Linked DNA regions of Homo sapiens: region 2 is linked to region 1. Evidence: fine-mapped expression QTL. Tissue or cell type: naive CD8 T cells. Region 1 holds a variant in brackets; the other region holds the start of a gene. All regions are shown on one strand. Distances are between the middles of the regions.

Evidence for each region.
Region 2: it holds the start of MRPL32, and the variant in region 1 is fine-mapped to the expression of MRPL32 in naive CD8 T cells (Schmiedel 2018, PIP 0.95).

Annotation. Positions count from the first base shown.
Region 1 is chr7:42,890,910-42,906,612 of GRCh38, forward strand. No RefSeq gene overlaps it. Among named protein-coding and RNA genes, the nearest start is that of C7orf25, 13 kb to the right of the region's middle. The variant C/CTT (reference allele first, on the strand shown) is at 8,123.
Region 2 is chr7:42,928,539-42,944,241 of GRCh38, forward strand. It overlaps MRPL32 (mitochondrial ribosomal protein L32), which reads left to right and starts at 3,838. Exons shown (of 3, transcript NM_031903.3): 1 at 3,838-3,978; 2 at 6,417-6,598; 3 at 8,784-9,319. The coding sequence starts at 3,849. The coding sequence ends at 9,038. It overlaps PSMA2 (proteasome 20S subunit alpha 2), which reads right to left and starts at 3,636. Exons shown (of 8, transcript NM_002787.5): 1 at 3,580-3,636. The coding sequence starts at 3,620. RefSeq lists an enhancer at 3,787-4,016.

The sequences.
Region 1 (15,703 bases):
TGACCCTCTATACCCAGCTGCCCATTATGCTTTGGGCCATGGAAACAGACCCCACAAGCTCAACACAGCTACTGAGGCTCCCTAAGACAGATGGGAACAAACCTGGGTCCTCTGGTATATTCTACCCACAGGAGGGTATAGCTTCCCCTGTTCTAAGCCCCTTGCCAGACGCCAGGGTGCTGGAGGATGACATCCCTCCCCTAAACCCCTTGACTACTAGGAAGCCCTGTGGATTAACTGAGTGACCAGTAAAGGGAGTTCATAGACTATGTGAATGGCACTGCCAGCCCCTGTGCATGGTGGAGCCTAGTGGAATGTGCTGCTTTCCATTCCTTAGCCAGGATGTCCCTAATAAAGGATGGGGCCCAAATACAACGCACGTGGCCAAAACTCCAGGTGGTCATCTTAGCACTGGATACCCTGGTCAACAACTGGTCCTGTCTTCATGTTTATTATAAACTATTAGGCCATTACTGAAAAATTGGCCCCTCAAGGATAAAAAAAAAAAAAAGAAAAAGAAAATCTCTGGGAATCTCTTACTTCGCACTCACCCAAAACATAAATTAGAATCATACTTCTCCACTTAGAGTTGAGGCCACAATGCAAGGCCGTGCTAGCCATGCCTTATTCCCTTCAGAGTCATGGCTGTTACTAACAGTAACCAAGGCACACAATTCACTTCTTAGAACACATCATGCTGGGCTCCTGAGGAACATTCAATAGAACTTTCATGTCCATGACAGGTCCCAAATGACTGGTCTCAATAAGAGACATCATGATGGTTTAAACAACTCCTTTTCAAACTTCAATACCACAAATAAACTAAAGTTCTCTAGTTTGCCCCTGGCCTTAACCTACTTTTTTTTAACAATTTTTTTATCTTGTCCCCATCCCTTAAGGTCTGTAGGTCAGATCAAGGACATAGACTCTCCTGGGACTCATTAACCATATATTGTCCCACAGGCCTGGCAGCTGCTCATCTTATATGAAACCCATTTGAACCTAAATGTCCACCCAAAACAAAACCCTGTCAGGTGCAGCTGCACACCATTTCTTTGATTGTTGGTCTTATTACTATCAGTTTGGGTGCTTTCATTGGTTTACAACTGGACACCCAAACCCTCCAGTAGTAGATCATTGTTTCAACCAGTTATGACAAATGCTGAGGCCCGCACCAACTCAGGTGCCTACCCATTGAGACATCTCAGTCTCACCTCCTGGAGGACACTGCCCCAACTCAAGACCTCAGCGTTGGAGATGACTTTGCTCCCTGTGCCAGACATGGCTTCACTCTGGACACTAAAATCTCCCCCCAGTGATACTCACAGACTGCCTCTCCAAAAGCAGAAAACGCACATTTATTATTTTTCTTCCTGAACTCACTGTCTACCTGATCCTGCTATACTTCTTACTCTCTGCTACCTCCACACTCCCATACCTAAAGGGAACTCATAATACAGGTTACTAAAATGAATGAAGATTATTGCCTTTCCCAGGAGACACCAGCCCCATGTCAGTCAATCGTGTGGCTCCCTGGGGAGATGACCACCTACTCCCTGAAATCTTTCCTACTAAGCCCCTCCAGTTTTCACCACAATCTCTCACCCTGCATCTCCGAACATCACCACTATGATCCCTCTCTCCCCTTACTCTTGAGAAATCTCCAGCACTCAACCACAACTGCCTTAATTTTGAATAAGATGCTGAGGCACCAAGAGGTGAATTGCAGTGGATTTCATTCAAAATGAAACCTGAAGCCATATATGGACTTAACTGACCAATTAAATATCATGATTTTCAAATTTGATCACATAGCAAAACTCAAACCTGTGCGATAAAACAAGAGACATATTTAAAATATAATAACTCCAAGGACTAGATTGCAGCTCTGGACAGAGCAGCATGCGGAGGCTTGCGCTGTGAATTTTAGCTCCAGATCAACTGCAAGTAAAAACCAGCAATCCCAAGAGGACCCACAGACCCTCTGAAGGAAGTAGGCTGCTCCTGCAGCCGGGGGAGACACCCCAAATACTGTGAGTGCCCCAACTGTGGAAGTGGGAAAGGGTGACCCTCCTCTCCCAAATACATATCCTCACTGGAGAAGCTGAAGATCTGTTTGCAGGAGAAGTTTCTGACTTTACCTGGAGCTGAGTCAGGTTAGAGAGCTGAGCAAAGTGCAGGGGTAGAGGAAGCAGCAGAAAGGCCCTGGGAGCTCTCTGGGTCCCCAGGCAGCCCATTCCTGCCTGGCACCACAGCGATCCATCGGGAGGTTGGCCAGAGGAACAGGGGGGTAAACCTCCACAGGGAGAAGGAATTCTCTACCCGAACTTTGTAACAGTTTGAATGGGGGAGAAGCCTCCTGGCCAGAACTCAGTGGGAGGGCACAAATTGGGCATGTAGAATTCACAGGCCAGGAAGAACTAAAGTCCTTTTCTCTCACAGCTGGGAGGCAGATAGCCTCGGGCAAATTTTCAAGCCAGTCTTGCCTTCACCTGGAAATGGACTCAGGATGTTAGGGGGGTGCATGGACTCAGGATGTTGGGGGGTGCACGGTGGGAGTGAGACTGGCCCTTCAGTTTCCATGGGAGCCGGCAAAGGCCTGCCATTGCTGGCTTTCCCCCACTTCCCTGACAACCTGCATGACTCAGCAGAGGCAGCCATAATCCTCCTAGGTACACAGCTCCACAGCAGCTGCAGCAAGACAGGCCCAAGGAGAGTCTGAGCTCAGACACCCCTAGCCCCACCCCCACCTGATGGTTCTTCCCTACCCACCCTGGTAGCAGAAGACAAAGGGCATATAATCTTGGGAGATCTAGGGCCACACCCACCGCTGGTCCCTCTCCACAATACTACATACAGCTAACGCTTTCTGGAAAGCACCACCTCCTGGCAGAAGGCCAACCAGCACAAAAATAGAGCACTAAACCACCAAAGCTAAGGACCCTCAAGGAGTCAATTGCACTCTTTGCCAACTCCACCAGAACAGGTGCTGGTATCCACGGGTGAGAGACTGATAGATGGTTCTCATCACAGGACTCTGTGCAGACAACCCCCAGTGCCAGTCTGGAGCCAGGCAGACTCACTGGGTGGCTAGACCCAGAAGAGAGACAACAATCACTGCAGTTTCGCTCACAGTAAGCCACATCCATAAGAAAAGGAGGTGAGTACTACATCAAGGGAACACCCCGTGAAACAAAATAATTTGAATAACAGCCTTTAGCCCTAGACCTTCCCTCTGACAGAGGAAACCCAAGTGAGAAGGAACCAGAAAACCACCCAGGTAATATGACAAAACAAGGCTCTTCAATACCCCCAAAAAAATCACCGTAGTTCACCAGCAATGGATCCAGACCAAGAAGAAATCCCTGATTTACCTGAGAAAGAATTCAGGAGGTTAGTTATTAAGCTATTCAGGGAGGGACCAGAGAAAGGTGAAACCCAATGCAAGGAATCCAAAAAATGATACAAAAAGTAGAGGAAGAAATATTCATGGGAATAGGTAGCTTAAAGAAAAAACAATCAAAGACTCAGGAAACTCTGGCCACACTTTTAGAAATGTGAAATGCTCTGGAAAGTCTCAGCAATATAATTGAACAAGTAGAATAAAGAAATACAATATCACAATCCAACAAAGACAAAGAAAAAAGAATAAGAAAATATGAACAAAGCCTCCAAGAAGTCTGGGACTATGTTAAACAACCAAACTTAAGAATAATCGGTGTACCTGAGAAAGAAGAGAATTCTAAAAGCATGGAAAACATATTTGGGGGAAGAATTGAGGAAAACTTCCCCTGCATTGTGAGAGATCTAGACAGCCAAATAAGAGCAAGAACACCTGGGAAATTCATCACAAAAAGATCTTCACCGAGGAACATTGTCATCAGGTTATTCAAAGTTAAGACGAAGGAAAGAATCTTAAGAGCTGTGAGACAGAAGCACCAGGTAACCTATAAAGGAAAACCTACCAGATTAACAGCAGATTTCTCAGAAGAAACCCTACAATCTAGAAGGGATTGGGGGCCTTATCTTCAGCCTCCTCAAACAAAACAATTATCAACCAAGAATTTTGTATCCAGCAAAACTAAAGCATCATATATGAAGGAAAGATACAGTCATTGTCAAACAAACAAATGCTGAGAGAATTTGCCATTACCATGCCACCACTACAAGAACTGCTAAAAGGAGCTCTAAATCTTGAAACAAATCCTGGCAGCACATCCAAACAGAACCTCTTTAAAGCATAAATTACACAGGACCTATAAAACAAAAATACAAGTTAAAAAGTACAAACAACATACAAAAACCAAAGTACACAGGCAAAAAGGGCATGATGAAAGCAACAATACCTCACATTTCAGTACTAACATTGAATGTAAATGGCCTAAATGCTCTACTTAAAAGATACAAAACAGCAGAATGGATAAGAACTCACCAACCATCTGCTGCCTTCAGGAGACTCATCTAACACATAAGGACTCACATAAAGTAAAGGCATGGGGAAAGGCATTTCATGCAAATGGACACCAAAAGTGAACAGGGGTAGCTATTCTTATATCACATAAAACAAACTTTAAAGCAACAGCAGTTAAAAGAGACAAAGAGGGACAACATATAATGGTAAAAGACCTTCTCCATCAGGAAAATATCACAATCCTAAACATATATGCACCTAACGCTGGAGCTCCCAAATTTATAAAACAATTACTAATGGTCTTAAGAAATGAGATAGAAACAAAATAATAGTGGGAGACTTCAATGTTCCACTGACAGCACTGGACAGGTCATGAAGACAGAAAGTCAAAAAACAAACAATGGATTTAAACTATACCTTGGAACAAATGGACTTAACATGTATATACAGAACATTTCATCCAACTACCACAGAATACACATTCTATTCAACAGCACATGCAACTTTCTCCAAGATAGACCATATGATAGGCCATGAAATGAGCCTCAATAAATTAAGAAAATTGAAATTATATCAAGCACTCTCTCAAACCACAGTGGAATAAAACTGGAAATCAACCCCAAAAGGAACCTCCAAACCCATGCAAATACATGGAAATCAAATAACCTGCTCCTGAATAAGCACTGGGTCAAAAACAAAATCAAGATAGAAATGTAAAAATTCTTTGAACTGCACGACAATAATGACACAACCTACCAAAGCCTCTGGGATACAGCAAAGGTGGTGCTCAGAGGCAAGTTAATAGCCCTAAACACCTACACCAAAAAGACTGAAAGAGTACAAACTGACATCCTAAGGTAATACCTCAAGGAACTAGAGAAACAACAACAAACCAAACCCAAACCCGGCAGAAGAAAGGAAAGAACCAAGATCAGACCTCAACTAACTGAAATTCAAACAAACAAACAAACAAATACAAAAGATAAATGAAGCAAAAAGCTGGTTCTTTGAAAAGATAAATAAAACTGACAAACCATTAGCAAGATTAACTAAGAAAAGAAGAGAGAAAATCCAAATAACCTCACTAAGAAATGAAACAGAAGATATTACAACTGAAATACAAAAGATCATTCAAGGCTACTATGAACACCTTTATGCACATAAACTAGAAAATCTAGAAGAGATGGGTAAATTCCCGGAAAAATACCGTAGCTTAAATCAGGAAGAATTAGATACCCTGAACAGACCAATAAGCAGTGAGATTAAAGTGGTAATTTAAAAATTATCAACAAAAAAAAGTCCAGGACCAGACAGATTCACAGCAGAATTCTACCAGATATTCAAAGAAGAATTGGTACCAATCCTTTTGACACTATTCCACAAGATAGAGAAAGAAGAAACATACCCTAATTCATTCTGTGAAGCCAGCATCAGCCTAATACCAAAAACAGGAAAGGACATAACCAAAAAAGAAAACTACAGACCAATATCCTTGATGAACATAGATGCTTAGATGCTAAAATCCTTAACAAAATACTATCTAACTGAATCCACCAATATGTCAAAAAGATAATCTACCATGATCAAGTGGGTTTCATACCAGGGATAAAGGGATGGTTTAACATACACAAGTCAATAAATGTGATACACCACATACAAAGGATTAAAAACAAAAATCACATGATCATCTTAGTAGATGCAGAAAAAGCATTTGCCAAAATCCGACATTCATTTATGATTAAAACTATCAGCAAAATCGGCATACAAGGGACATACTTTAATGTAATAAAAGCCGTCTATGACTAACCCACAACCAACATAATACTGAATGGGGAAATGTTGAAAGCATTCCCTTTGAGAAATAGAACAAGACAAGGATGCCCACTTCACCACTCCTCTTCAACACAGTACTGGAAGTCCTACCCAGAGCAATCAGACAAGATAAAGAAATAAAGGGAATCCAAGCTGATAAAGAGGAAGTCAAATGTCACTGTTTGCTGACGATATGATCACTTCCCTTGAAAACCCTAAGGACTCCTCCAGAAAGCTCCTAGAACTGATAAAAGAATTCAGCAAAGTTTCTGGATACAAGATTAATGTACACAAATCAGTAGCTCTTCCAAACACCAACAGCGACCAAGCAGAGAATCAAATCAAGAACTCAACCGCTTTTACAATAGCTGTAAAAAAAAATAAAATACTTAGGAATATACCTAACCAAGAAGTCAAAAGACCTCTACAAGGAAAACTACAAAACACTGCTGAAAGAAATCATAGATGACACAAACAAATACAAACACATCCCATTGCTCATAGATGGGTAGAATCAATATTGTGAAAATGACCATACTGCCAAAAGCAATCTACAAATTCAATCCAATCTCCATCAGAATACCACTATCCTTTCAAACAGAATTAGAAAAAACAATTCTAAAATTCATATAGAACCGAAAAACAGCCTGCATAGCCAAAGCAAGATTAAGCAAAAAGAACAAATCTGGAGACATCACACTATGGGATTTCAAACTATACTATAAGGCCATAGTCACCAAAACACCAGGGTACTGGTATAAAAATAGGCACATAGGCCAATGGAACAGAATAGAGAACCCAGAAATAAACCCAAATACTTACAGCCAACTGATCTCTGACAAAGCAAAACAGAAATATGAAGTGGGGAAAGGACATCCTTTTCAACAAATGGTGCCGGCATAATCAGGTACCCACATGTATGAGAACGAAACTGGATCCTCATCTCTCACCTTATACAAAAATCAACTCAAGATGGATTAAGGACTTAAACCTAAGACCTGAAACTATAAAATTTCTAGAAAATAACATTGGAAAACCCTTTCTAGACATTGGCTTAGGCAAGGATTTCATGACCAAGAAGCCAAAAGCAAATGCAATAAAAACAAGGATAAATAGCTAGAACCTAATTAAACTAAAGAGCTTTTGCACAGCAAAGGGAACAGTCAGCAGAGTAAACAGACAAGCCACAGAGTGGGAGAAAATCTTCAGAATCTATACATCTGATAAAGAACTAATATCAGGAATCTACAACAAACTCAAACAAATCAGTAAGAAAAAAAACAAAAAATCCCATCAAAAAGTGGGCTAAGAACATGAATAGGACAATTTCCAAAAGAAGATATACAAATGGCCAACAAACACATGAAAAAATGCTCAACATTGCTAATGATCAGGGAAATGCAAATCAAAACCACAATGTATACCACTTTATTCCTGCAAGAATGGGCATAATAAAAAAATTAAAAAACAGTAGATATTGGCATGGATGTGGTGATCAGGGAACACTTCTACACTGCTAGTAGGAATGTAAACTAGTACAGATACTATGGAAAACAGTGTGGAGATTCTTTAAAGAACTAAAAGTAGAACTACCATTTGATCCAGCAATCCCACTACTAGGTATCTACCCAGAGGAAAATAAGTCATTATTCAAAAAAGATACTTGCACATGCACGTGCATGTTTATAGCAGCACAATTCCCAATTGCAAAATCATGGAACCAACCCAAATGCCCATCAATCAACAAGTGGATAAAGAAACTGTGGTATATATATATATATACACACATATATATATATATACACATATATATATATATATACACAATGCAATACTATGCAGCCATAAAAAAGGAATAAATTAACATTTGTAGCAACTTGGATGAGATTAGAGACTATT[C/CTT]TTTTTTTTTTTTTTTTTTTTTGACACAGAGTTTCACTCTTGTTGCCCAGGCTAGAGAGCCATGGTGCAATCTCAGCTCACCACAACCTCTGCCTCCTGGGTTCTAGCCATTCTCCTGCCTCAGCCTCCTAAGTAGCTGGGATTACAGGCATGCACCACCATGTCCAGCTTATTTTGTATTTTTGGTAGAGATGGGGTTTCTCCATGTTGGTCAGCCTGGTCTTGAACTCCCGACCTCAGGTGATCCGCCCACCTCAGCCTCCCAAAGTGCTGGGATTACAAGTGTGGCCACTGCGCCCAGCCTAGAGACTATTATTCTAAGTAATGTAACTCAGGAATGGAAAACCAAACATCGTATATTCTCACTGATATGTGGGAGCTGAGCTATGAGGACGCAAAGGCATTAAGAATGATACAATGGACTTTGGGGACTTGGGAAGAGTGGGAGACGGTGAGGGATAAAAGACTACAAATATGGTGCAGTGTATACATGGGTGATGGGTGCACCAAAATCTCACAAATCACCACTAAAGAACTTACTCATGTAACCAAATACCACCTCTACCCCAATAACTTATGAAAAAATAAAAAATATATATAATAATTCAAGGGCTAAAAAGTAAAAAACATATAAAAAGAATGGAAAAAGGTATACTAGGCAAATTAATATAATATTCACCGGGAGGTCCTGATCTTGATATCAGACAAAATAAAAAGAGTATTAAGGATGACAAAGATAGATACTTTCTAATGATAAAAGCTGTAATTCACAATTAGAAGTTAACACATTTTTTATATACCAAATAAATAAAGAGCAATTTGCACAAAACAGAAACTATTGAATATTCAAGGAGGTGTTACTATACTTTCTCAGTAAGATAGATTAAATGAACCAGAAAATGAGAATATATAAAAGAAATGAACAACATAGGCAGGACGCGGTGGCTCACGCCTGTAATCCCAGCACTTTGGGAGGCTGAGGCAGGCAGATCACCTGAGGTCAGCAGTTCAAGACTAGACTGGCCATCATGGTGAAACGCTGTCTCTACTTAAAATACAAAAATTAGCTGGGAGTGGTGGTCAGCACCTGTAATCCCAGCTACTCGGGAGGCTCAGGCAGGAGAATCACTTGAACCTGGGAGGCAGAGGTTGCAGTGTGCCAAGATCACGCCATTGCAATCCACCCTGGGCGACAAGAGCAAAACTCCATCTCATCTCAGAAAAAAAAAAAAAAAAAAGAAAAGAAAAATAAATGAGCAACATAATCAAAAAGGCAGCCCTAAGAATAAATGAAAAGTTCACAGAAAAAAATAAAAATGCAAATATCCCTTAAACACAGAAAAAGTTTCTCAAGCTCATTCTTAAAAGGGAAAATGCAAATAATTAACTAATTAAATAATGTCATAGTGAGACAATACACTCTACTGATGAAGCTATGGAAAAACAGTCACACTCAGACATTACTGTTGAGAATGCAAACTGTTAAAATTCCCAATCAGAGACATTGGATAATACCTGGCTACCAAGACACCCTTTGACAACAAATTCTTACTAGTGTAGATGCACTTCCACAAGGACAAACAACAACAAAACAAAACCACAAACTATGCACAAGCTATCCTACTGGCTTTATTTGGAAAAGCAAAAGATTGAAAACAATGCAAACATCCATCAGGACGGGGATAGTGGCCTACCCTGTGGCCGACCCACACAGTACTATGCCCCTTTCATAGGCTTTATGAGGACCACTATCAGGAGGAGTAACCTCAGGCTTATATTTTTAAATGAAAACAAAAGAAGACAAATTGCTACCTCTTATGAAGAAAAGGAATGGGAAAAAAAAACTATTTGTATGTATGTGCTTTATGTGAGAAAGAAAAGAAAAAAGGAAAGAGGGAGAAAGGAAGAAAGAGAGGAAGGAAAGAAGGGAGGGAAGGGGAGTGGAGGGGAGACTAAAGAGGTAAAAAGAGAGGGACATATAGAAACAATACATTTGTGATGGCAATTTTTATATAGTTTTTGCTTTTGAGCCACAAATTTTATATCCTTATATTTTAAAGAATAAAATTAAGTCAAAAAAGAAAACTCTAAAATTGAAAATAAACTAGAACAAATGAAGCTCACTATATATCAAATTAGTAACATAGCCTCATAAAATAATACAAATCATATGACTTTAAAACAGTACTTTAACCTTATATCTGGGCTAAAAGGACAGAAGAACTGCAAAGAAATATTCATATTGATTCAGTGACTTTATTGTAAGCCGTAATAATCATATTTTGAAACTTTTTTATGTATAGCATAGCATAAAGCAAATAAGTATGTTAGGAAAAAAGATTTGCAGAGCAAGAGACAAAAGTTTGAAATTAATGTTAAGTAAAAATCTGGGAATGTTATATAATGTTAATTTTGATCTTCCCCATCAGTTGAAGATATTTTAATTAATTTGAAATATATAAACATTTCCATTTTGTGCATTGCAAGAGCCCAGGATCAATGACAACTGAGTGGCACTGAGTACCCCTAGCCCTTGGACTTTTCTTTGGAAATGCCACGAACTAGGAAAGGCTCCTTGAAGAAATAGTGGATTCCAGGTCTCAGGCAGAAAGCACGGGCAACTCTGAGACACCTTGTACTGCCAGAAAGCATGAAATCAAACAGCATGGGATTATGTGAAAAAGACACAGGAATCTTGAACGCGTTTCTACTGGCCAAAGTTTGGACAGTCAAAGCATCAAAAAGAATGATAAATAAAAGGGCAACATGAGAGATCCTACAGTAACGGAAATACTCGGCATCTTGACATCATCAACATCAATATCCTTGTGATATTGTACTACAGTTTTTCAAAATGCTCCCACTAGGGAAAACTGCGTAAAAGGTACATGGGTTCTCTCTGTATTATTTCTTACAACTTCACACGAATCTATAATTATCTCAAAATAATAAGTTTAAAAAAGTAAGGTAATTGATGTGGGCATATTTGAAAATATAATAATTCATGAGTCCAATATAGTACTCACAAGATAGAATCTTCCTCCTAAAAGGTTCATTTGATGTTATTGGAGGTGACCATAACATGAATCCCTCATTCTGAAATCATTAACTGGAGAGAAAGAATCAAGGATACATATTGCCCTTCCAGAAGGGGAGCCAAATGGCCCCAGTTCCTAAGGGAAACCTCTTCTTTATGGAAGAATGATAACTGATAAGTGTAAAGGAAATGATAGAATTGGGGAAATCACCATTTTGTCACTTGAATGGAATATTTCATTAGGGTTATAATCATCAACGCATGCTAAAATCTTAGGCAAAAGGGCAATGGGTAACTGAACATTCACAGTGGCGCCAAAGCATGACTTCACAGTTTACTTACTAGTCATGAGGGCAAAAACTAACTTCACAATGGAGAGTTCTGGCTGTTACCACCTTATTCAAGGAACAATACTTAACATCACTAACAGTGGAAAAACCAGATATTATGTGCCCCCTCGTGTAACGAAAATGAGGAACACAGTATCAACCACAAAGTATTCTTGCCCAAAATGTTTAACCAGAATTGAATCCAGCCTTTAGATATCCTTTTCAGTTTACAGGAAATCAAACTGACCACTGGAAAATAATCAGAGAAATCAAGAATATAGAATATTCTGTAAGACAACTGTCCTGGTGTCTTCAAAAAACTCAGTCATAAAAGGGTAAGGTAATACCATAGATTGCAACAGAATTAAGGAACGTTAAACCCAAATGCAATATCTGGTGTTTCACCGGATTCTGGTAGACAAATCCCCTGACATCTGAATATAGATTGGGCACTAGATGATGCTCAGAATTATTAATTTCATTAGATGTACTCATGGAATCATGGTTGTCTAGAAAAATGTTCTTTTTAGAGCCAAGTACTGAGGGATATATGTTAAATATCATGATGTCTGTAATTTATTTTAAAATAATTTCAGCAAAAGAAAAACCTAGAGAAAGCAAGTAAGGCAAAATAATGACTGTTTAAACCTCGGTGAATGGTACACTGGTGTCCGTATTCTATTCTATTTTTTTGTCTGTATGTTTGCAAAATGATTTTGTTCCCTCTCCACCATGCTATCTAATTGTCTCTTTTAGGAACAAATAAACTTTAATATCAGTTAGAAATATTTTCAGCTACATGTAATGGAAAAGCCAACTACAGTGGCTTAAATAAATTGGGATTGATTTTCCACATAGCAAGAAGTCCTGCGGGAAGCATATGTCAGCACCAAAGCCTACATGCCGCACTTGGTCTTTCTCTCATCACCATAACATGGAAGCAAGTACAGCCATCGACCACATCGGACCCTGTGGTGGAAGGAGAAGGCAGCACTATTGCACTTCCACTCGTGTCTCAGAGGCAAGGAATCTGGCCGCCCCCAGCTAAATGCAACACTGGGAGCATGAGGCTTTTAGTCTCCAGTCTCTATGGCACAGGCAGGCAAAGGCGGTGAGGATGGGAACCCGACTTTGTGCTCAGTCCATGTTGTCTGCCAGAACCTTTGATGGAGTGGACTCATTTTTTCTCCATGTCTCAGCATCTTGTTTATATTTTTCATCATTTAATTTATTTGTTGAATCCTGGGAAATTCTATTCATTTCAGAATTCTTTTAGTTTATCTCACCTACTATTTTAAACTTTATTTCTGAGATTGTAATTTTAGTGAGTTTTTCTATTTCCTGAAGTTTTATTTGCTTGTACTCTTTCCTTTTTTTTCTTTTCTTCTTCTTCTTTTTTTTTTGAGACAGTCTTGCTCTGTTGCCCAGGCTGGAGTGCCATGGCATGATCTCAGCTGTCACCTCCACCTCCCACGTTCAAGCAATTCTCCTGCCTTAGTGTCCCTAGTAGCTGGGATGACAGATGCACGCCACCATGCCCAGCTAATTTTTGTATTTTTAGTAGACGGGGTTTCACCATGTTAGCCAGGCTGGTCTTGAACTCGGGACCTCAGGTGATCTGCCCACCTTGGCCTCCCAAAGTGCTGGGATTACAGGCGTGAGCCACCACACCTGGCCCCTTATAGTTTCTATGCCTTTTTTTTTATCCCCTTTAATCATTTGTTATTTAGGTGAAGAGGGAAATGCCTTTTTTCCCCATTCTTACTTGCATGATGGCAGGGAAGTGGAGGCGTTATATCCCCCAGCATATGCCTGGCCCTTCTCTCCTGGGAATATAGAGAAATGTATTTGATTGCAAGTTTCAGACGAATGCCTGGAGGCTTGGCTTGGCTCATCTCTGCGCTTTTTCCTTTTGTGAATAAGTTTGCCACAGGGTGAGGTGTTCTCTGCAGCCCTTTTGGGACAAGCTCTCCCTGTCACATGCCCCAGAATTACCTGCAATCAAGTGGTTAATGTCTGCCTAATTCTGGGCTTCAGTATTAGGAAACATACTTGCTGCGCATATACACCACATCCTCCACCTGAGCTGTGTGTGCAATGTTTGGTTGCAGCCTCCCTCTGCTACTTTGAATTACTACTTCTTTTTGTTTTTTGTTTTTTTTTCAGAGGATAGGGAACACTTAGAAGATCCCAAACTTACTTTCTTTTATATTTTGCTATTATATATTTTTACATATATATTCTATAATATCATATATTTTATTTTAATGTATTTTGTTATAATCTTAAGTTCTTGAAGAACTAATGCTCCTCTTTATGTGTTGCTGATTTGCTGGTGGTGGAAGGTTTCCTTCTACGTTTTGACTATTTCTCACTGTAAGCGCATCCAATCAAAGCTCAGTTTTTCTATAGACATCTACGTAGCCGGGAAACTAAAATGTCCCTAAGTCCAGAATGAGGTTGCGTATGTTGTTCTCAGGTGTCTGAGAGATAGCACTTGCCAGCGGCCAATTTTTATACTAATTTCACATCTCTGGGTTTCCCCCATGATGCTGTTAAATGACTTGAACTCTATGTGGGACACAGTCTGGGCTTTGATTTCTTTCAGAGTTCTTCCCCCCGCCCCACCACCCCCACCCCACACCCCACACCCGCCCCCAGAACCACTGGAGTCAAACCCTTGCTGTGTCCCTGGGCAAAGTTTACAAGATCCTCTTTCATGGGCATTACAGCCTTAAGGTTCTGGTTCACTCAGTGGGGGTCTTGGGGTTACCTCTTTACCTCAAGCAGGCCTCATGCCTCTGATTCTATCCCAGCATGAAGGTTAATCCCCACATCCCTACTATAACGGTTGGGAACTCATCCTTGCCTTTCTTCCTCTTGGGAACAAGATTCCCGGGCACAGTGACTCACACCTGTAATCCCAGCACTTTGGGAGGCCGAGGTGGGTGGATCACCTGAAGTCAGGAGTTCAAGAGCAGCCTGGCCAACATGGCGAACTCCCGTCTCTACTAAAAATACAAAATTAGCTGGCCGTGGTGGTGCATGCCTGTAATCACAGCTACTCAGGAGGCTGAGGCAGGAGAATCAATTGAACCCATGAGGTGGAAGATGCAGTGAGCCAAGATTGTGCCACTGCACTCCAGCCAGGGCAACAAGAGTGAAACTCCATCTCAAAAAACAAAACAACAACAACAAAAAGATTCCCACAGCGTGAAATGTTCTCTGCCTGAATCCATTTTGTCTGCAGTGCCATTTTGTCTGGGATGTTTATGTATCTTTTTAAACTGAAATTTTGTTCCAGCTTCTTTTTTATGCAATCTTGTCAGGTTTCAGTATCAGAGTTATACTCATGTTCTGTAAAATGAGTCTGAAAACATTTCCAATACAAGGATGACCTGAGACAGTCAGCCTGTTATTACATGAGTCAAGAAACACCCCATGGGCTTCAGTCCCATACCCAGGCCCTGTTCTCAAACAGGAGAGCAGGCCAAAGTTCTCCTCTTGGGGCAGAGGACAGGGAGTAAGAGGAACAACACATCTTACCATGTTACATTTCAACCCCACTTACGGGGTTATGCTCCATATTACCTTTTAGAGCACGGGGATTATTCGGTATTTAAAAGTAGGAAAAAACTTGTCTAATAAAGTTAACTGCATCTGCACATATTTTGGAGAAATTACTTAACTTCTTTAACAATTTTTTAAATGGTTATTGCTTATTTAGGCTATTTTTCAATTCTAATTTACATTTCCTGAAACAGTCATCTGTTCCAATGAGATTTCCCAGTATATCACAATTATCTATATATCTCCCTCCAAAGCTGTTTTATATCCTTCCTGTGCTTGCAGCTAGCACTCTTATTTTATGCTTTCTGCTTTTTATGCCTCATTCACAATTCTTTTATCTTTTTCTTTTTGAGACAGGGTCTCACTCTGTTGCCCAGGCTGGAGTACAGTGGTACAACCAAAACTCACTGCAGCCTTGACCTCCCAGGCTCAGGTGAGCCTCCTGCCTCAGCCTCCCTGGTACCTGGGACTGCAGGAGTGCACTACCATGCCTGGCTAATTTTTGTATTTTTTGTAGAGCGGGGTTTTGCCATGTTGCCCAGGCTGGTCTTGAAGTCCTGGGCTCAAGGGATCCACCCTGCCTCAGCCTCCCAAAGTGCTGGGATTACAGGTGTAAGCCACAGCGCCCAGCCTGACCTGTCTTTT
Region 2 (15,703 bases), 38 kb after region 1:
AAGTTATCCTTTATTTCAACCTAGTTGTTTAAATGGAATCATCATAAACCAACCTAATTTCATAGATAAAGTCTGAGTGAAAGTAATTTGTCCAAAGTGACACAGCTAGGTCCTTATCTCCCGTCTACTAATGAAAATATAAATTTCAGAAGGCCGTATTTTCTCTTCATATAATTACGAATATTCCCTTGGTCACTCAAATCTCAACTCCATCCCTCCTTGCTCCAAACACATAGACTACTCTCAGACTTCAAACGCCTCATTGACAAGCTAATCCCTCCATCTGAAATGCATTTCTCTATTGCCCTGTGAACTCCTTTCATTCAATCATGTCCTAAGGGAAGTTGCCCTGAACCCTCAAGATTAAGTTGAATACCTATTCACTGATGCCTGTGATGTCCTGCACTTCCTCTTTGTCTAAGATTCATCATATCTGAATTGTTATTTTTTTTTTTTAGTAACAGGGTCTTGCTATGCTGCCCAGGCTGGTCTCAAACACCTCGTCTCAAGCAATCCTCCTGCCTCGGTCTCTTTATTATTTTTACAATATTTGTCTTCCTCAATAAAGTAGCTATGTTCAGTCAGGATTCCAGCACATAACCTAATACCAGGAATCCACAATCATTTGGCTGACAGAGACACATCTAGACCAATTAAAGAAACAGACCTAAGGGTGACAGCTTTAAGGCTCTTGATATAATTAATTTGAGCAGAATAACATCAACTGACATTTAAATTAAAAAATTAGGCTGAACTTTTCCTTTAATAGTCACTATTTCAATAATCATATCATAACTTTCTGGGTCCATCCAGCTTTCAATTATTGTTCAATACCTAATTCATATACCCCTGGGTAACATTTAAAGGCTCATGTAAACTTAATAGCTACCATTTCTCTGTTCCTATTACCTGTACATACCTATCTTTACCACTGCATGATTTCACTGCGTGAAAGCTCACTAACCTGTGAGCTGGCTGAGCAATCAACCATCTTTATATTCCATAATGCCACTATCCCATTCCATAGCATCAGCATCCCTACATGGGATAACTGAAATAGCCTTCTAACTGGTTTTCCTCTTTCTCAACCTTACTTCCACCCCCAGCCAAAGTTACCTTTGGACCATGTCACCTACACTTAGATTTTGTAATAACTTCTTTGTTCACGTAAAATAAAATCTCCTTCTCTGGCCTACAAAGTCCTACACGATTAGCCCTCTCCCACATTATCTCCTTGCTCACTATAGCACATTTGCCTCATTTTTATTCCTTTAAGAGCTCAAGCTCCTTCCCAGTTTCAGGGCTTTCATACATGCTGTTCCCTCTGTCTACAAGTCTCCTTATTCCTGAATCTTCAAATAGCTGGTTACTTTTAATCTTCCAGTCTCAAAAATCACCCCCAAGCACAAGCCTTTCCTGATTACTCAATCTAAAGTCATATTCCTTCCTTCACCCATTTAAAATAAAATTCCTTAGTAAGAGAATGTATTAGTAGGCACCAATTTGTTTACTCATTTATTGTCAATTCCTCAACCAAATGTAGTCCACAAGAACTGTTTCATCCTGTATGGTCTCTAGTCCCTTCCACCATTAGTTTACTTCTGATTATGAGAGGCTAGAAACAAATATTTTCTTTTTATCTAAAACAGGTGAATCCACCATGTTAAAACACACACACACACACACGCACACACACACACACACACACACAAGTTTGGTTTTTTTAAAAAAAACTTTTAGATATGGGGTATCACTTTGTGACCCAGGCTGGAGTGCAGTGGCAGAATCACAGCTCACTGAATCCTAAACTCTTGGGTTCAAGTGCTCCTCTCGCCCTCAGCCTCCCAAATAGCTTGGATTACAGGCACATGCCTGGCTAATTTTTTAATTTTTTTCAGAGATAGGGTCTTGCTGTGTTGCCCAGGCTAGTCTTGAACTCCTGGGCTAAAGTGATCCTCCTGCCTCAGTCTCCTGAGTAGCTGGGATTACAGGTGTGAGTCACCCTGCCTGGCCAAAAGTTTATTTTAATAAAGAAAATTTGTTATAAAAAGATTCAGTCCCTGAAGGTATACGGTTGTTTTATGTTTTCAGCTCCACTAGGATTACACTTTCTTCGCGATAAAAGACCACATTTGCAGCCTGGGCAACATCGCAAGACCTCATGCCTTAAAAAAAAAAATTAGCAGGCAGGGTGGTGCACACCTCTAGTCCCAGCTACTCCAGAGACTGAGGCAGGAGGATCCCTTGAGCCCAAGAGCTGGAGGCTGCCAAGTCCCTGTCCCTAAAAAAAGGACCACATTTGTTTTCTTCATAAATAGGAACAGTGAATACATCCTGCACACACTATTCTGTCATATGTAATATAATGAGACCTTTTATTGCATAATTAAATTAATCTCGTTCAAAGGTTACAAAAAAACTATTACATACACCCACTGCTTACTGAAAACTGCCAAGAGAAAAGTACTTTTGGAATTTAAGACAACGTTATGTAATGGAAAGTGTATTTTTGTTATCAGAAAAAAAACCCAGTTTGAATGTCAACTCAGCTACTCACCGATGACCTTAGACAAGTTGTTTAATTTGTACAAGCTGCGGTTAGTTCATCTGTAAGAAGCTGAGATAACATTCATTATAGCAGTGGAAAGAGATGGAGCAGGTTAAGGTTAAGTTGCACCTAACAAAGTACTCAACAAGTTAGATCCCGCCTGCCTTCAGTTGTCAGGAGTACATTTTAAGTAAACTGGGCATTACTGATCCTTAAGAAAATGGGTAAGTCAGAAAACTTCCCCAGTCAATTTTTAAAAGTCTTCGGCGATGGTTTTCTCACGTTGAGAGCCATGGTTCGCCCCAACTGTATTTTGGAAAGTAAACTTATTATTCTAATCCCCTTTTCTACAATAGAAAAACCTACAATCTTGTTTAAAGTAAACATCCCCCTCCCCGACGTTCCCCCCAGTCCACCAAAAAAAGACCAAAACTCAAACTTGCCTCGTTGTTAGGGGTTCACAAAAAAGTGATAGGGGCTTTCGGTTTTTAGTCCTTATGTTTCTAATTCGTGCATCGAAGAAACCGAAAGCGGGAGGTTTTGAAAGACACTAGTGCCAAATGGAGACCAAGACTCCGACTTAACTGTAAAGCTGAGAGTTTTCCAAGAAAAGGGAACCCCACATATTTGACCAAGATTCCAAGTTTCAGAAACCACCGCATCAGGTCTACTTGAGCCAGGAAAAAAATCCTGAGTTCGGAACGGGCCACCCAGAGATGGTTAAGCTAAAACTGCCTTCTTTTCTGGTCTCCAAAGTGAAAGCGAATCCTTGGCTATGTGCCTCACCGTCCCGCAGCCCCATGTTAACCCCGCAAAACCGCATCCCCCCGACCCTCCAGCAGCCTCCGACCAAGGAAGCTCCAGGAATCCCGGGTCGGCCTGGCAAATGACTTTGCAAAGCCGCATTTCCAACTCCATTCCCTACTGGACCCTCCAGAAGCACCAATGCCGACGTCAGGATGGGAAAAACTAAATCGACAGAGTACCAGCAACCTCGACTACGCTGAAGACCTCGAGGGCCCCTTCCATACCTGAATGTAGTCAGCGAAAAGCTGTACCCGCGCTCCGCCATCTTTACCCGAAGAGCCAAAGCACAGCCGCACACATGCGCACTGTGGCCGATTTCCTTTCATTTCCCCGCCCCTCACCTTTCCTTTACTCTCTATGATTGGAGGAGAGTCAGAGCTGCTCCAAGAGCATGCGGGGTGTTGTAGTTCTAAGAAGCGAGGCTTGCCCGATTCTGTGCCTGTGCGCATGCTGAAAGCAGGGGCGGGACCGGGGCGGTCTTCCAGCAGGGAAAATGGCGCTGGCCATGCTGGTCTTGGTGGTTTCGCCGTGGTCTGCGGCCCGGGGAGTGCTTCGAAACTACTGGGAGCGACTGCTACGGAAGCTTCCGCAGAGCCGGCCGGGCTTTCCCAGTCCTCCGTGGGGTAGGTAAAGAAGGGCTCCGTGGGAGAGGGGGCTGATGACGGGACCTCGGGCAGCGTAGCAGACGCAGCTTACACAGTTCGCCCTCAGCCCCGGTTCTGATCCGCGGCCTCATGTCGGGGACGTAGTTCGTGACATTCCCATATTAGCGAGAACAGAACGACTGTTTTTGCGCTCCCTCCACCGCAAAAAAAAAAAAAAAAAAATTCCTCTGCTTGTTCCATTCGTACACAGAATGTAACCCAAGCTTGTGTCAAAGATAAATCATAGCCAGCCAGTAAGTAAAGCGCTGAAAACAGATTTTATTCAGTAACTACTGCAGGTAAAGAGCTGAGCTCCATCCCGGTTTGTGCAGAGGTGACTTTGGGCGTTTTAAAGGGAGAATGAGCGAGGCGGGAGTGTAGGGGCTCTGTAGAGTCAGAGAAGTGTAGTATAGTGAAGTCAGTGCAAATGTGATTAGCCGGCTGTGTCTGCTAGCTCGCAGTTGTCTTAGGGAGAATTCTATCCTCCCGCAGAGACTGGGAGACAAAGGCCCTATCCTTCCTAATGATTAGATTTCGAAGGAATGGCTCTCAGGGCCTTGAAAGAAAAGCTTCCGAGTTAGTTGCAAGGGATACGTATTTACAATTATATGCCCTTTCCAGGAAATGCTCTAAGGGAGTTCGGGACCTACTATCGGGGTATGTTGGCCAAAATAAATAGGAAATTTTCCAGGCAGCGTTGAGCTTTCTCAGGCAGGCACTTTAAAGGGGGGGCCGAGGTCATCCTAGGATACAGCCTTATGCTGCTAGAAACTATGCTAGAGTTTGGTCAAGTCTGTGGAGTTCAGGGATTTGTACAGAGTTGTCCTGAGAGGACAGTTCTGCAGGTCTCACTTGGCATCAAGGCTCACCACTCTCTGGATCTGTCTTTCCTTTCCAGCCCTGCCCTCACCTCCCCTCCCGCTTCCCCTCTCCCCCCTCTCCTCTTCCCTTCCCTTCCCTCCCTTCTTTCCTCCCTTCCTCCCTCCCTCCCGCGCAGTACATGTTTTCTGTGGTGTTTGAGCTCTGAGGAGCTGAATTCTGTTTCCCATGTTTCACTTGGAATTAATTTTAATTGGAAGTATCTTGGATGTTGAAACTGTCATGGCTTTGGCATTTACATTCTACTCAATTTCTAAGCAGCCTGAAAGTGATAATATCCAGAAATATACCAAGAAAATATATGCCACTATATGCCAAGCAATGTGCCAAGCTTTCTACATGTACTTCCTGGGATAATCTTGACAACAGTCCCATTAGGTGTATACACTTTCCAACTGAAACAGTAGGCTCACAATGGTCCCAAGTTCACAGACAGTCCTGAGCCTGTGTTGTTAATCACCGGGGCATGCTTGGCAATACTTGTGGACATACTGAAAATAAATGCCAGTTGTTAAGTGTTAGAGAACTTTGTGTATTTTTAAGAGTTCTTAAGATCAAAAGAAGTATGTGGGCTGGGCGCGGTGGCTCACACCTGTAATCTCAGCACTTTGGGAGGCCAAGGTGGGTCCATCACCTAAGGTCAGGAGTTCAAGACCAGCCTGGCCAACATTGTGAAACCCTGTCTCTACTAAAAATACAAAATTAACCAGGCGTGGTGGTGCACACCTGTAATCCCAGCTACTTGGGAGGCTGAGGCAGGAGAATCACTTGAACCAGGGAGGCGGAGGTTGCAGTGAGCCGAGGTCACGCCACTGCACTCTAGCCTGAGTGACAGAGTGAGACTCAGTCTCAAAAAAAAAAAAAAAAAGTATGGCACGTCTAAGAAATAGCAAGGAAAGGGTAAAGGAATGTTGATTTTATAAGCAATTCAGAAAAAGAGAAACTTTGATAGTCACATAAATAAGGCCATACAGAGAAATGGTGAGCTGGCTCTTTTCTTTAGAGAGCAGACAGGAATCAAGATTAAATGTTATGAGGAACTAAGTGACTTAAGAGGTTGTATCATAAAGGACCTGACTCAGTTTGAATATAAGAAAAGGCAATTGGCAGTTACATCAGTGCCGGTCAGAAGTGTATTCAGGAAATCTGTCTAGATTTACTTGTAAATTAATCAGGTACTTACTACCCGCCAAGTATTAATAGAATGTGGACAGTTGAGTGATTCTTTGCTTGTTTTGTTCAAGTTAGGTGCCTATCAGAGTCCTGTATTTTATGAGATAAGAAACTTGATGGAATTTCACTGATCTTCTTTTCAGCAGGATCCGCTAAGAAAAAATTCTGTGTTCCTTAAAATTGTATAAGCTTTAGTGTATTTTAATAGCTAAGGTTTCTCATTATTGAGTTTCACATTCTAAATTTTATATATAGTTTTTGTGTGTGTGTATGTTTGACCATTGATTGTTAAGGAAAATGATATCTGTAAATAGTAATTTAGAAGCTAGAAACTAATTCTGTATCTCTTATGTTTTATTTCCTAGGACCAGCATTAGCAGTACAGGGCCCAGCCATGTTTACAGAGCCAGCAAATGATACCAGTGGAAGTAAAGAGAATTCCAGCCTTTTGGACAGTATCTTTTGGATGGCAGCTCCCAAAAATAGACGCACCATTGAAGTTAACCGGTGTAGGAGAAGAAATCCGCAGAAGCTTATTAAAGTTAAGGTAATGCATTGATTTTTGTGGGTGTGCTTTTCCTCAAGTCCTCCATTGAATAAGCTCATGGTAGATTCCTATAGCCTAGGAATAAATTATTATCAGATTATATGTGTCTACTTTCCTCTGGCCTAAATGAAATACAGTATTCTCATTATATACATAATGAGAAGGCTAGAGCCTGCTGTCCTCTAGCCTGAGTATTAGAAACACAGTCAAGGAAGGAGTGAGTTTGGAGACTGGGCAAGGAACGAGGCTGTGAGGTGCCTACATGACTTCTGAATTGTGAGCTGTGTCAGTCTTGAGCTGTGTGAGTTTTGAACTACAGATGAGTAAACATCCTAACTATGGCAGAGCCTAGAATTAAAGCTAGAAGCAGTAGGTATACTGAATCTTGGGTTTTACAAGCCCTTACATATTTGTTTTATTTTTTTATCATTTCCAACAAAATACCATGAAGGAAAACCCTAAGATAAGTAATATAATAGCTAACAACAATTAAGTGTCTATGATGTATCTCAGTGCCTTATGTTTATTATATCTCATCATGTCTTATAGCCCTCCAAAGCAAATAAGATATTCTTCATTATTAGGATGAAAAAACTGAGGCAAAAAGAATTTGCCTGTGGTCACACAGCTATGAAGCAGTAGATTTTCGAGCTCTGATTTTTGACCTCATGTTCTTTTAAAGATTTTCTTTGTGTTCTCCTATCCTCAGACAATTTCAGATTCTCCTCGCTGACAACATGGATGTACTGTCTTCATTGATCTAGTAAAGAAAAATTACAGTGTGTATTACCTCTGATCTGTTCATGTATGGTTTTAACAGTTAGGATTTCAGTTACTGTTTACTTCATGGCGTTCCACAACAGCAGCACCATACAGATGAAACTCGAGAACAGAAAGCTGACTTTCATAAGCATCCACATTCTGTTAAGCAAAACCTTAGAACTTAAGCCAGAAAGTATTATTGAGTGATGGTTGGGGCTGAACTTAAATGTAGAACTGAAAAACACTTTATTACTTAAGACTTACAGTAATTCATAAATTTGCTCAAGAGGACGTAAGATTTTAGGAATGAGATCTTGCACTGATCTATTATGTGACTTCCCTGATCGCATTTATTCTGAAGGAATAGTTCTTATCCTGTGCATTTATTTTCTTCCTTGAATTATTTTCTGTTACATACGGTATATAGTGTGTTATGTTGGGTACTTTGATCACGAAAGGAAGACCAGCTGACTGTGGGTGTCTTCATACCTTCAGTTGTGCATGCAATCCAGTTTCCAGTAGTGGAGCAAAATGAGAATATGGTTAGGCAAGTAATATACAAGCCTCTTTCTTCCTTTCAGAAAAGGAAATTCTTTTGTTATCTGCCTCACAAATGTTAGTATATTAATCTTATCAAGTGTTTAAAGCTTCTTTAATGATCCTGTTTAGTATTTTTCTTTGTATTTTCTTTCAAACCTACATCTAGAATAAGTTGATAAATCTTTTAGAGGTTATAATGTTTCTATTTTATATTTAAAGTTGGAGATATATATATATCTATATCTATCTCTATATATATATATATACACACACATATATATATCATTAAAATACCCTAAGAATGTAACATAGAAAATAATTTTACATTAAGGAATAATCAGTGTTCATTTTTAAAAAGAAAAATTATACCATATACGAAACCTGTATTCTGTACAGGAATTTGAATTACACTGTGATAAAAAGAGGAAGCCAAGGAAGTCAACTTGTAATGTTCTTATCTTGTTTTCCCTAAGATAGATTGAAAGACAAAGGGAATTCACTTTTCCTTGGTGTCTTATTTAAGATGCTGATTGTTTGGGTCACTTCATTATGTTGACAAATTCCTTATTTGATATTTAGTATTTGGAGTTAGGGGAAATGAGTATTTCTTTTTTCTTTTTTACATAACTACAACTGCTGTGTTTAAGTAAAGATACCAGATTCAGGTTGGCTGAATTCTAGTTCTAGTTTTTCTCTAATTCAAACTCAGTGTTGCTTGTCTTCAGTCTTCCTGTTAAAGTGAGGTGGAACTAGATGGTGTATGATGACCTCATGTAGCCTGAACATCCTAAGAAAGTTAAAATGTAAGCATTGCTCCTGTCAGTGGTTATTTGTTCGTTATATTGCCTCATGTTAAAATACGTTTTTGTTTATTGTTTTAAAGAACAACATAGACGTTTGTCCTGAATGTGGTCACCTGAAACAGAAACATGTCCTTTGTGCCTACTGCTATGAAAAGGTGTGCAAGGAGACTGCAGAAATCAGACGACAGATAGGGAAGCAAGAAGGGGGCCCTTTTAAGGCTCCCACCATAGAGACTGTGGTGCTGTACACGGGAGAGACACCGTCTGAACAAGATCAGGGCAAGAGGATCATTGAACGAGACAGAAAGCGACCATCCTGGTTCACCCAGAATTGACACCAAAGATGTTAAAAGGGTAACTTCACAGTAAATCATTTCTCCTGAAATAGAGGAAGATTCTTTATGTTGTTGTGCTTGTTTTTAAATCATCAGTATAGTTTAACACATTCTTTCTAAGCAGTTTTGTGTGGGATAATTTGAAGAATATATTATGAGTAAACTCCGAAAATTTTGTTTATCCAAAGGCTCAATGGATTATGTTTCTATTATATACAAGGTTTTAAGTAAACATAAAATTTCCAGAACAAAAATAAAAAATTTAAAATTCATAGCAAAAATTCTGTGTTTTGGCTTTGGTTTTGTTTGCCAGTGCCTTTTCTTAGACAAGAATACTTAACACAGATAACTCCATTTAAGTAACACATGGAAATAGGTTATTATTTGCATTTTTGGTATTGTTTTTTAAGATGGTAGGTGTGGCAGTAAGAATGGTTTTTGTTCTTATTTTTCTCTTAGCAAATTAAAATTGCTTTTGGAGGAAATTACTTTTATGAAACATACTAATTTACTTAGGTGATAGAAGTACTTCTTTACATTTTACATTAAATCAAAATCATATTCAGAATATATGAGATAGCCTATGTTTTGGAAGAGATTATTAGTAAAGATGTGAGCAGATTCCATAGCACACTGAAAATGTGATACGAATGTTCTTTGCATTTTTCTTTTAATATGTCCTTTTAGTTTATTTCACGTTTTATCAATTTTATCTCATTGTAACAATAGGCAATAGGCTCTTTAACTTAACTTTCTTTTTTTTTTTTTTTGAGATGGAGTTTCGCTCTTGTCGCCCAGGCTGGAGTGCAATAGCCTGATCTCAGCTTCACTGCAACCTCCGTCTCCTGGGTTCAAGAGATTCTCCTGTCTTAGTCTCCCAAGTAGCTGAGATTATAGGCGCCTGGCACCACGCCTAGCTAATATTTGTATTTTTAGTAGAGACAGGGTTTCACCATGTTGGCCAGGGTGGTCTCAAACTCCTGACCTCGGGCGATCCCACCTTCCTCAGCCTCCCAAAGTGCTGGGATTACAGGCATGAGCCAGTGTGCCTGGCCTTTAACTTAACTTTCTACAGTTAATTTCTTATTTTCTTCTACCTCTCTCATTCCTGTGTCCACCTTGAGCCCAAGGTTTGCTATTTTGTTTCTTGCCTCATTCAAAATGAAAAAAGTGAGGTAGCTATTTAAAACACATAATGATAAGCAACTTAGGGAATTATAGTTAAAGGTAACATCGGTAGACAAGATAAAGCCCAGGGAAGTATTTACAGCAAAAATACATGCTGCAGTAACCTGAACACATACTATATTAGGCAGCATATTTGACTCAACATTTTTTTTCTTTTTTTCTTTTTTTTTTTGAGACGAAGTTTCACTCTGTCGCCCAGGCTGGAGTGCAGTGGCACTACCTCGGCTCTCTGCAACCTTCACCTCCCAGGTTCAAGCAAGTCTCTTGTTCTCAGTTTCCCAAATAGCTGGGATTACAGGCACCGGCTACCATGCCCAGCTAATTTTTGTATTTTTAGTCCCGACCTCAGGTGATCTGCCCACCTTGGCCTTCCAAAGTGCCAGAATTACAGGCTGAACATTTTTTTCTTTGGAAAGAAAGAAGATTCACTTGCATGGATCAGTCTTCACAAAGTAAGACAGATAATCTAGAAGATGCATCACTATCTTGGTACTAAGGCCTGAAGTGTACTAAGGCCTGGGGCTTCATAATGAAAATTGTATAATGGCGCAATCTATGTTAACATTCCTAGAGGTAAAATCACCAATTTCATTGGGTATGGTATAGGCCAATGTTACGTTGAAGTGCAATTCAGTAAAAAATTTTTAAAACTTCCAAAGTGTTAGAATCCCAGCAAATAGCTCTTTCAAGGCTGGGCTTGATCTAAGCATTAAAAAGTTGAAATTCCAGAGGAATTGGTTATCTGCATATTATTTAGACAAACCTCTACAGATAATTATTTTTAACCCTGAGAAGTCATACAATGCTGTGTGTCAAAGATAGACTTGAGGTGGAATCAGTGGTTCATGAACACTGGGGATGAATATATTCAACTGCCTACTCAGTATCCTCAGTTGACTAATAGGTTGCAAAGTGTATCTCCAGGTAACAAATTGTCCTTTGATAGTACAGACTGAATGTATTCATGTATTGATCTGGCTGCTACAGATGTGAGAAAAAAACATTCTTATGTTGAAAGCTTAACCTCCAATGTGATGGTATTAGAAAGTGAGGCCTTTGAGTGGTAATTAGGGAATAAAGGTATACCCCTTATGAATAAGGCTGATGCTCTTATAAGAAGAGACGCAAGAGTGTTCTCTCTGCCCTCTGCCATGTGAGGCTCCAAGGAGAAGGCTGACTACAAATCAGGAAGCAGGTCTTCACCAGAACCAAATCTGCCAGCACCTTGATCTGGGACTTTCCACCTTCCAGAACTGTGAGAGATGAATCGTTGAAGAAACGCTGTTTGTTAATTTCTTAACAGGAGCTTGAGCTAAGACAGAGGCTCTATATGCAGGTAACCTAGTGAGAGTACGTGGGCAGAGTGACTGTTTTCTGTTTTCAATTCATGAATGGAGAAACTTATTATAAAATGCATCCCAAATTAGGCAATTATTAGATAGCAAAACCAGATATCTAGTCCATGTCAGAAAACCATGTCATAAAGGAGAGTACTTTCACTTTTACGAAGGGGTTGTCCCATCAAAGTTTTCTTTATAATACATTTTATCACTTCATGCCTCCAGTTTTTACTATGGCAGAAAATCATTATGAGTTGGAATTAAACCAATTATGTAACTGATTCAGGTTTTGAATTAGAAATTAATTCCCTTGTCCCTACTCATTCCCTACAACATGAAGATGTTGAGACATCTTACTAGGTTATTTTGGAAGGAGTCATTCTTGACTCTGACATCCCACCTTTTCTCCCTTTCACATCCAACCTGCGAGCAAATCCAAAAATCCCATTGATTCTACCCTCATTATATACTTAGAATCTGGCCATTTAACATGAAGATTTATGCATACATATTTTTTCTTGGGAAACCAAAAATAGTTTTGGTGCACTATGGATGACCCTAATGTAAATAAATTGTGATCTTTTAAAAATACGATTTTTTCATAATTTGTGTAGTGTGACTTTTAAGTTAAAAATTTATTATTTAAAGAGGTTCAATGAGTAGGGGCCTTTGTAACATTCATGATACGGGGATTGCCCTCCCACTCTCCTCAGATAACTGTTTTCTACACCTGCCTCCACCCTCCCATATGCAATTATGTTTCAGGGGCAGGATTTGCCCCTCAATATTTCTAAATCTGTGCTAAGGAATTCTGCTACGATTAGTGTTTTTCTGGCAAATACACAAACATAGATGCTCTGTCTTCAACTGCAATTTTTAGGGAGCAGTGTCATTCCATGGTCTAGATTAGTGAATAACATTTCCATCTTGCCTTTGAAACAGGATGGTGTCGCTTCCAGCTGCTGTCCTCTCGTTTTTTCCACAAAGGGCATCCAGAACAGCAACAGCTAAGGCAAATAGAGAGATATTCCCTGGTGCTCAGTGGAATGTCCCTGGGCTACTCTTTACCTTACTTCCAACCTTCGTGTTACCCTGCCCCTGTGTTCCTCTGCTGGCCCCGGTGACGGTCTGTGCACTCACCTCCTCCACGTTTGTGGAGTCGCTAGTAAGCATTAGGCATGCAATTTGGAGGTAGGACAGGAAGAAAGCTAGAGGGTTAACGAGTTCCAGTCTCTGGACCCTGGTGTTCAAGCTCAGAGCCAGCTTTACAGTTTCAGCCTTTAAACTCACATGAGGAACTGCTACAGTTTACTAGGCATCAGCAAGCCGCTCCACTAGGGGGCAGCAGGTGAATTGCACTGAAATTCTCAAATGAAATAATAAACCATCAGGTACAGCAATGCTGGGGACATTGTCTGTTTCTGCCAAAGCCATCAGCCTGTGGCTAGCAGACAGGATTACTGCAGGGGGAGAAAAGGCTGTCTGCAACGCTGAGTGAAAGCTAGAGGCTGCCAACAAAACTGAGCCTCCCTATCACTGTGTCCAGGGCTTCTCTCCCTCCGCCCTGGGTCAGTTTGCTCTCGCCAGTGTTCCCTCCTTGATCCTCTTCTTTTCCAACCCTACATCCTTGGGTACATGCAGCCAGCTTAATTCTAAAATCCTTTCCAAGAGCATCTTTCAGGATAAAAACTCTTTTCCAATATTCCCCAATATTACATTTCGGTAACTAAAAAGAACTACTGATTTTCTCATTGACATTCTTCTAATCAGTAGTTCTCAACCAGGGATGATCCCCTTCCCACCCCAGAGGACATTTGGCAATGCCTACAGACATTTTTGGTTGTCACGCTGGGGTAGGGGGGTGAGGGATGATGAGAGCTACTGCCTTCCAGTGGGTAGAAGCCAGGGACGATGCTCAATATTTTCCTCTATCAGACTCAATAACACTAACTTTTTTGAATAAAAAATGTGACATGAAAATATTTTAATTTTCTAGAAGTCTCAGTGAGCCATCTTATTTTCTTCCATAATTTAAATATGCAGTGATGACCCTCAGGTCTGTGTATCTAGGTCTCATTTTTCTATTAATCTCCAGACCCATGTTTCCAAATAATACGAGATTTCCATTAGAACGTCACATAAGTCTCAGTAGATCATAGCCTAACAACTTTTCCAAATCTCTCCCTGTAAATTTGCTTCTCTGATAGCCTAGCTTGGTTCGCTTATTCATTCAACAAATATGTCTAACATTTCTCCAACCATAGACTACCTCTGATTGACTAATGGACATTTCGGGGTTAGCATATTGAAAACGGAACTGCTGATCACCCCTATCCCTTACCCCACTAGCCAAACTTGTACCTCATCCAAACTTTCCCACCTTGACACAAATCAAATTGCTCCAGCAAAATCCTACTCATTCTTGATTTCTCCCTTCTCATCCCACATAAGCAACTCCTTTGACTCTACCCCCATAACATATCCTGAGTCCCAAGTGGCATTCAGTTTGGAATGACAGGAAGGGATGCCAGTGTAAGGAGAATGTGCTGGGAAGGGGCAAGAAGGGATCTAGGGAGACAGGCTAAGGGTCTCTGGAAGAAATCCAGGCTGAAGATGATGTAGCCCAAATCAGAATGGTGGCCAAGGACAGAAAGAACTAGAGGAAATAGAGATACATATTTCAGAAGTGGAATTGGTGAGGACTTGGTTGTAGAAATGCAGGAGAGGGGAAAACAGGATAATTCCCAGGTTTCTAGCTTGAGTAACAGAGAGGATGTGATTAGGGAGCCTGTGAGAGGTGAAGGCAGATTATGCAGGAAACTCAAGATACCCATTTTCGAGAAGCTACATTTGAAATACTTATTGGACATCGAAACTGAGATGGCAAGCAGGCTAATGGATATGTGAGTATGTAAATTTGGAAGCAGTCAGCAGATGGAGTGTATTTAAAGCCATTAAAATGAATGAGATTATCCACAGCAAGTACTTATGAAAGAAGAGAACCCGAAACTGAGCCCCGAGGAGAGGGGTAGCCTGTCGAGGAGGACATTAGACTGTCACGCCACAGATTCCAAGAGGGAGAGCATTTCAAGAAGAGGAAACCAGCCATCCTGTCAAATGCTGCTGGGAGGTGAAGATGAGGATAGGAAAGTACCCAATGATTGTGGCAATTGGAATTCATCTGCAAGATGACAAAAGTGATTTTATTTCAGTGTTGATGGCAGAAGACAGACTGGAGTGGGCTAAAGAGAAGATGTTTGCTGAGGTGGTAGAGGCCGTGTTCCTAGACAGTTCTTCCCAAAAGTTTTCTTCTGCTAGGGAGTAGAGAAATGAAGCAATAGCTAGAGGAAGATAGGGAATTAAGAGGCCACTGTGTGTATGAGTGTCTGTAAGTGTGTGCACTGCAAACTGAGAGATCAATATGTATTTATGCTGCTGGGAATTATCAAGTAGGAGAGGAGACTGTGGATGCAATGAAGCCAGGTTCAGGGGAGGTCTTTAATGCAGCTCCATCATGAGAGGATGGGCCTCAAGGCTTGCGCTTATTAGGAAGAAGAATGCATTCTCTATTGTTACACCTGAAAGTTGAACCAGGAGGAGGACCTAGGACAATACCCTAGAAGCCTGATTCATTTTCATGCTTTTCTGGAATATGTTGATATGGTTTGGATCTGTGTCCCCACCAAATCTCACATTGAAATGTAATCCCCATTGGTGGTGGTGGGGCCTGGTGGGAGGTGATTGGATCGGGGAACAGATTTCTCATGAATGGTTTAGCACCATCTTCTTGGTACTGTCCTCATGATAGTAAGTGAGTTCTCATGAAATTTGGTCACTTTAAAGTGTGTGGCACCTCCCTCCTCGCTCTCTTGCTCTTGCTTTAGCCATGGGATGTGCCTGCTCCTCCTTTGCCTTCCACTATGACTGGAAGCTTCCTGAGGCCTCACCAGAAGCAGATGCTGCTATGCTTCCTGTACAGCCTGCAGAACCATTAGCCAATTAAACTTCTTTTTTTATAAATTACTCAGTCTTAGGTATTTCTAGCATTGCAAGAATGGACTAATACATATGTCTAGAAGCATGAGTGTCTGAACCTGCCGTCACCACAGCCCCATCTATAATTTTGCTTTTCATGTT